2 linked regions of the Homo sapiens genome follow. The protein of the gene in region 1 purifies or fractionates together with the protein of each later gene. This does not show direct contact. Each region holds a gene or a part of one and is shown on either strand. Other genes may lie near its edges.

Region 1 (3,821 bases):
TTCATTTTGTTGATGGTTTCCTTTCCCGTGCAGAAGCCTTTTAGTTTGATGTAGCCCAACTGTTTTTTTCTGCTTTTGTTGCTGTTTTTTTTGTTTGTTTGTTTGTTTTTTTGAGACAGAGTCTCGCTGTACTACACAGGCTGGAGTGCAGTGGCGTGATCTCAGCTCGCTGCAATCTCTGCCTCCTGAGGTTAGGATCCCTCCTGAGCTGGGATTACAGGTGTGCGCTACCATGCCTGGCTAATTTTTGTATTTTTAGTAGAGACAGGCTTTCACCATGTTGGTCAGGCTGGTCTAGAACTCCTGACCTCATGGTCCACCCACTTTGGCTTTCCAAAGTGCTGGGATTACAGGCATGAGCCACTGCACCCAGCCTGTTGCCATTTCTTTTGGTGGTCATATTAAAAAAGTAATTGCCAAGACCAACGTCGAGATTTTTCCTTATGTTTTTTTTCTAGGAGTTTTGTGCTTTTTGTTTTTCTTTTCTTTTCTTTCTTTCTTTTTTTTTGAGGCAGATTCTCGCTCTGTTGCCCAGGCTGGAGTGCAGCGGCACGATCTTGGCTCACTGCAACCTCCACCTCCAAGGTTCAAGCGATTTGCCTGCCTCAGCTGCCTGAGTAGCTGGGATTACAGGCGCACACCACCACATCTGGCTAATTTTTATATTTTCAGTAGAGATGGGGTTTCATCATGTTGGCCAGGTTGGTCTCGAACTCCTGACCTCAGGTAATCCACCCACCTTGGCCTCCCAAAGTGCTGGGATTACATGTGTGAGCCACCGCATCCGGCCTGAGTTATGCTTTCAATGTATTTCTTACATTTCAGTTTTTAATCACTTTCCAGTTAATTTTTGTGTATGGTATAAGACAAGGGTACAATTTCATTCTTTTGCATGTGGATATCCAGGTTTTCCAGTGCCATTTATTGAAGACTATCCCTACCTCAGAGTTTTGTTTGTTTGTTTGTTTGTTTGTTGTTTTGAGACAGGATCTCACTCTGTTGGCCAGGCTGGAGTGCAGTGGCACCATCTCCACTCACTGCAGCCTCCACCTCCTGGGTTCAAGTGATTCTCCCACCTCAGCCTCCTGAGTAGCTGGGACTACAGGCACACATGCCTGGCTATTTTTTGTATTTTTTTTTTTTTTTTTTTTTGAGACGGAGTCTCGCTCTGTCGCCCAGGCCAGACTGCGGACTGCAGTGGCGCAATCTCGGCTCACTGCAAGCTCCGCCTCCCGGGTTCACGCCATTCTCTTGCCTCAGCCTCCAGAGTAGCTGGGACTACGGGCACCTGCCACCACGCCCAGCTAATTTTTTGTATTTTTAGTAGAAACGGGGTTTCACCATAGTCAGGATGGTCTCGATCTCCTGACCTCGTGATCCGCCCACTTTGGCCTCCTAAAGTGCTGAGATTATAGGCGTGAGCCACCACTCCCAGCGTGTTAAGAGTTATCTCAAAAAAAAAAAAAAATTATCGGCCAGGCGTGGTGGCTCACGCCTGTAATCCCAACACTTTGGGAGGCCAAGGCGGGCAGATCACGAGGTCAGGAGATCGAGACCATCCTGGCTAACACAGTGAAACCCCGTCTCTACTAAAAAAATACAAAAAAATTAGTTGGGTGTGGTGGCAGGCGCCTGTAGTCCCAGCTATTTGGGAGGCTGAGGCAGAAGAATGGCGTGAACCTGGGAGGCGGAGCTTGCAGTGAGCCGAGATCATGCCACTGCTCTCCAGCCTGGACGACAGAGCGAGACTCTGTCTCAAAAAAAAAAAAAAGGAACACTCATTTACTGTCTTTATTACTGATTTTTCTTTTTGCTTATGTTGGATTACAAGTCTGCATTTTTATTTTTTTTCTTAACATAATTCTATTCCTTTAAACTTCCAGGAATTCTTCATCTTTGCCTATGACCTTTCTGTGTGTGTCTATATGTTGTGGATTTATTTCTAACATTTACATTCTGTCCTTTCAGTGGGATTTTGGTGGGGAGAATATGTCATTGTTTGGACTCATTTTGCCATCATGAACTATAAGTTGCAGTTTGTTTAGTGTTACATAATACTTCAGAATTGTTGAATGACAGTGAATTTAATTAAACAGTATAGGGTTTGTAATTTAATATACAGGGATTCTGCCCCTAAATATTTGAGTTATCTGAAGCAGGTTTCTTAATTATTCAAAGTATTGATATCCTTATCTGCAAAATGAGGAATAAGTAAATAAATAAAGGGAATAATCATATCTGTCTCATAAGTTCGTCACAAGCATTATTTGAGATAATACATGTAAAGCTCTTAGTATAGAACTTGGTATACAGTGAATATACTCAGTAAATGTAATTTGTTAAGTAGTGACTATTCAAAATAGTTATTTCAAAAACAAATCAAGCCGAGTGCGGTGGCTCATGCCCATGATCCCAGCACTTTGGGAGGCCGAAGCGGGTGGATCACCCAAGGTCAGGAGTTTGAGACCAGCCTGACCAACATGGCGAAACCCCATCTCTACTAAAAATACAAAAATTAGCTGGGGATGGTGGCAGGCGCCTGTAATACCAGCTACTCGAGAGGCTGAGTCAGGAGAATCACTTGAACCCAGGAGGCAGAGGTTGCACTCCAGCCTGGGTGACAGAGTAAGACTCAATCTAAAAAACAACAAAACAGAAAAACAAGTAGCTTTTTCAGAAAGCCTTTTAGAAGAGATATGAGTAAACAGATGCTAAGTGGCTGGCTAAATGATACCACAACTCTTGAATCAAAACTGATTCAGATTAAAAAAACCTCTTAACACATTCTTTCCTATCAATGTAGTTAGGACTAAGAGTCATGTAGCAGTAGTAAACCTGTCCTGTAATATATTTCTCTTAGGATTGGTTTGATAGTTGTATCATAATTGCATTATTTATAACATTAATTTATTAATGTATTCATTAATTAACCTAAGTCCTTTAGTAGTTTTCAGAATATTTTTCTTAAATTGTTTCCTGTGCTAATTCGAATGTTAACATGCTAATTCAGAGTTTGTTGCCATTTGTATCCTGACAGTGTATTAATGTTTATACTTGCAAGAGTGAAATATTTTATTTCTTATTACAGCGGAATGGCCAAAGACTATGACGGGTCTTCCTAGCACATCAGGGACAACTGCCAGTGTGGTCATCATTCGGGGCATGAAGATGTATGTAGCTCACGTAGGTGACTCAGGGGTGGTTCTTGGAATTCAGGATGACCCGAAGGATGACTTTGTCAGAGCTGTGGAGGTGACACAGGACCATAAGCCAGAACTTCCCAAGGAAAGAGAACGAATCGAAGGACTTGGTGGGAGGTAACATTCTGTCGTTTTCTCTTTCCTCTTTTGGTTCTATTTAGTCCTTTTATGCTTTACTAATGAAATTGACCTACTACTGTCCCTTTTACTGAAGTTACTTTCTTAGTATTACAGGTTTTTTAGTTTGTCTGATGTAATACTCATGTATGTATGTTCATATTTTTCTCATTACTATGAATTGACTTTTATTTCTGATAATGACTCTAATAGGAAATAATATTTCAGTGAGCCCCAAGGAAACAATTCAAGGTTTTACTGAAAACCTTTCAGATGACTTTCAGAATCTAGACGGAGCAGCTCTTGGAGTTCCAGAGTAGAACACTTTGAATCTGGCTGGGGGAAAAAGATTAAGTTAGAATTAACCTTCAGCTTTTTTCATTGATTTCAGATTTACTGCAAACCTTTCCAGTTATTGTTTTCTTTGTTTGAACTTAGCGTTTCAATGTGTAAGTAATTTGTAAACTAGGAACTGAAATTGATTTCAATTTTATATTTTTATGA
Region 2 (3,821 bases), on another chromosome or scaffold:
AGGCTGGTTGTTGAAGAGCCACACACTTTCTACCTGTACGTGTGTATTTACACATGGCCACGTGCATTTTACTACCCTCATGTATATAGTCAAATAAATACATGTGCATGTGTACACACATTCTTTCATATCACTTCTTGTCTGATTTGGCACCTTCCAAAACTCATTTTGAGGTGCCAGAATAAGTTTTATTTTGGCTTTTAGATGACAGCCTCCAGAGGAATGGCATCCACAATTACTCTTCGTCTCTGGGGGCAGCAAAATGTCCACAGCACTTGGGAACAGTCGGGTCAGTTGGAGTGGCATGCCCCCAGGAAGACAGAAACCTTCTTGTACAGTTGTCTGTTTTTATTATCATAGACAGGTGGTTGATAGCTGTTTTATTTCTCCCAAATATGGCTTTCGTTTTGGAGGAAAAACTTGGAATAAGTAGTGACTTACTTCATAGATGCTCTGCCCTTCTCCCCGACCCCACCAGTGGAGGGTGACATTGCTCCTTCAGCTCCCCACTTCTCAGCTCTGGGACATCGGTGAGTTCCCCAGGAAGGATGCGGACGAGGACAACCATGTACCTGCCCTAAGTGGGGAGACCAGGCGTGTGTACAGATAAACTTAATAGAGAGGCAAAAATGAAGCATGTCAGAAACACAGAAGTGCGGAGATTGTTCAGACCTCTCTTGGGTGATTACAGTGGACTCCTTATTGATCTTTTAGCTAATAAAATGAATGGAAAAATATTTCATAAGTGTACAATATGCAGTAGGAAAATAGAGTACTGTTTACTTAAAAGTCTGAAAAACACTGCTGTACTGCTTCCGTGCAATCACAACTGGGGTTTAGACACCCACTATCTTATCTTGTCTATTCCAAAAGGAGTCTAACATTTGTTTCTGACTCCACAGCCAGCAGTCTTTCTAGCACAACTTGTGATCCTCCCTGGATTAGACTCTTTCGGCTGTGGGAGAAGATTCCCACCTCTGTGTGTGCCTTCGAAGGCCTTTAGGATCTGGGCCCGCAGCCCCGTCTGTCACTGGCTGCCCCTGGTTGCCACTGATCCCTACCACCAGCCACACTGTACCATATGCTGCTTTGGCTTTTGGAATTTGAACAAAATCTAGCTTAACTCAGACATGCCCTCTAGGACTATATTGCTGTCATCATTTAAGGAATCAGAACTGTAGTGAAGAATACTTTGTAAATCAGCTTTACATACAGTTTTCAAAATAATCATGTATACAAACATATATAAGGTGTATTTGTCATTCACCATTCATTGAAGTGTTTATTACATGTTCTGTTTTGTCCCTCCCAGGGAAGAATCAACCAAAGTCCTGTCAGCCTTCCCCAGGAAGGCTTTCTATAGAGGACATGTGTGTTAGTTATATGTTGCTATGGAACAAGTTATCTCAAAATTTAGCAGCTTAAAACAACAAACACATTATTGTACACAGTATCTGAGGATCAGGAATCCAGGTACAGCTTAGCTGGGGTTCTGAGGTTGCAGTCAAGCTGTTGGCTGGGGCTGTGGTCATCTGAGGCTTGCCTGGGAGGGCCCTGCCTCTAAGCTTGCTCATGTGGTTGCTGGCAGGTTCATTTCCTCTTGGCTGTTGGCATGAGGCCTCAGTGCCTCACCACGTGGACCTCACCGTCAGCTGCCTGAGTATCCTCACAGCATAGCACTTCTCTTCCCCCAGAGTGAGTGATTCGAGAGAGGGGATCCAAGACAGAGATCAAGCTTTATATTTATATACAACCAGAAAATAAGTGGCACCCAAATACCTCAGGCTTAAAAAAAGTGAGACAGCAAGCATGGGAGCCTTTGTTGATAATAATGGCCTCTTTTTTCCATTTTGAGCCATATGAGATTCCCTACGTGCTGGGGGGGAGATAACTGCTCTAGGTAGATGTTTGTGTATTTCATGATCTGGTCCATAAGCGTTGTTGGAAAAAAGTGAAAATTAAAAGGAAACAAGTCTTGGCTAAAGGGGAAAAAAAAGTAAGTACAATTGCATCCTTTAGATCTCAGATTCTCTTTCTCATGACTTTATTCCAATTTATGTCCGTTACTTCCTTGAACATCCCACTGGTGACAGGCATAGCTGCCAGCTTCCAAGAGTCCTAATGATTCCCAGCTCCTGGGACTCACCCTTGTGCAGTCCCCTCCCACACAGTACCAGCGGTGGTCTGTGGGATGCTGTCACTTTTTGAAATCCAGTAAAAAGGTTTCTGTCTTTTTTACCTCATTGGTGAGTGATTGGGGAGTGGGACCCATGGGCCCTTTGATTAATGTGACTCTGATGTCCCAGTGAAAGTCTTTGTCATTCTCAGGCCGACTGCAGCAGTGGCCCAGGGCAAAGAGTGTGCGTCATCGATGAGATTGGGAAGATGGAGCTCTTCAGTCAGCTTTTCATTCAAGCTGTTCGTCAGACGCTGTCTACCCCAGGGACTATAATCCTTGGCACAATCCCAGTTCCTAAAGGAAAGCCACTGGCTCTTGTAGAAGAAATCAGAAACAGAAAGGATGTGAAGGTGTTTAATGTGAGTACAGCCAGTCCTCCATAATCAGTGGAAATGGAGCAGATGATCTAAAATAGCAGATGGCTCTAAAATATCTCTTTGGTTTTGAGTTAACATTTTTTCCCTTCCATGCTGAAATGTAGGTGAGTCTAATTTTCTAGAAATGTATAGAACTTAAATTATACCTCTACTTGATGAAAAAACAAACTCGCTTATGGGGGGGCCTCCTGACGGTCCCAGTTGTTCTGGCTGCTTTTTTCTTCCATCTCCTCACCAGACACTAGGACCTCTCTGGCATCAGAATTGCCTGAGCTAAGGTGCTTGTTCTAAGCTTATCTCTTCTCAGATTGAAAGGCGCCAGGTTGGGATACAGAGGCAAATATTTTTTGTTTTGTTTTAAAGATTTCCCTTTTAAAGCTGACCCACTTGTGCTTGTGGGGAGAAGAGGCTGTGGATGTGTTGGGAGACACAGCTTCCAGGTGCTGAAGAGCAGCACCGTCCAGTTGAACTTCCCAGTAGTGAGGGAAATGTGCTCTCTGCATTGCTCAGAACAGTAGCGACTAGCCACATCTCGCTATTTATGTTTAATAAATTTAATCATATTTAAATTGAATTATTTATTTAATCACATAAATAATCAAATTTAAATTGAATTAAACATTTGGATTCTCAGTCACACTGGCCACATCTGAGGTGCTCTGTGGTCTCGTGTGGCTGCTACATTCACTAGTGCATCTGTAGGATGTGCCACTCAGTGTGAGGCTTGCAGAATGGCAGCATGGGCATCACCTGGGAGTGGGCCTTGCCCTGGTCCAAGGAGTCAAACTCTGGGGGATGGCCCCATGATCTGTTCTGGCAAGTTCTCATGTGGTTTTTAGGTCCCCCGCACTTTGAGAAGCACTGCTGTAGACCACATGTGAGAGATGAGGGGCTAGGGCTTGTTGACCAGTGGCAGCGTCTGAGCCAGTCGGAAGGGACTCATGGCATTGCTGGCACTTTGTCTAAATTCTTGCCTTTCTTTCCCTGTTGTCCCTCTGTTTTCCTCTCAGTCAGATATTGCTTCTCCCCAACCCCTACCCTTAGTTTCTTTGAGTCAGTGGTAGCTGTGCTCTTGGCTGAGCTCTGCTCACACACCTCACTCCCCACCCCCAGTTTAAAAGCTCCCTGGCCCTGCAAGTGCCAAGTGAACAAGTCAGGCAGGCAGGGCCACTCCTATCAGGGGGAGTGGAGAGTGAGTACCCGTGAGCACCTTCCTCATGATCATTTTAATCACTGAGTGAAATGTCACCTTGGCCCACTGGCAG

What was found.
Region 2: the proteins of PPM1D (region 1) and NTPCR purify together in Homo sapiens (affinity purification with mass spectrometry; one large-scale study listed by BioGRID and IntAct). This does not show direct contact.

Annotation. Positions count from the first base shown.
Region 1 is NC_000017.11:60,620,433-60,624,253, forward strand, and holds part of PPM1D (protein phosphatase 1D), read left to right. Parts: intron 1-3,088; coding exon 3,089-3,317; intron 3,318-3,821. UniProt on the Homo sapiens protein: Involved in the negative regulation of p53 expression. Required for the relief of p53-dependent checkpoint mediated cell cycle arrest.
Region 2 is NC_000001.11:232,967,581-232,971,401, forward strand, and holds part of NTPCR (cancer-related nucleoside-triphosphatase), read left to right. Parts: intron 1-2,328; coding exon 2,329-2,538; intron 2,539-3,821. UniProt on the Homo sapiens protein: Has nucleotide phosphatase activity towards ATP, GTP, CTP, TTP and UTP. Hydrolyzes nucleoside diphosphates with lower efficiency.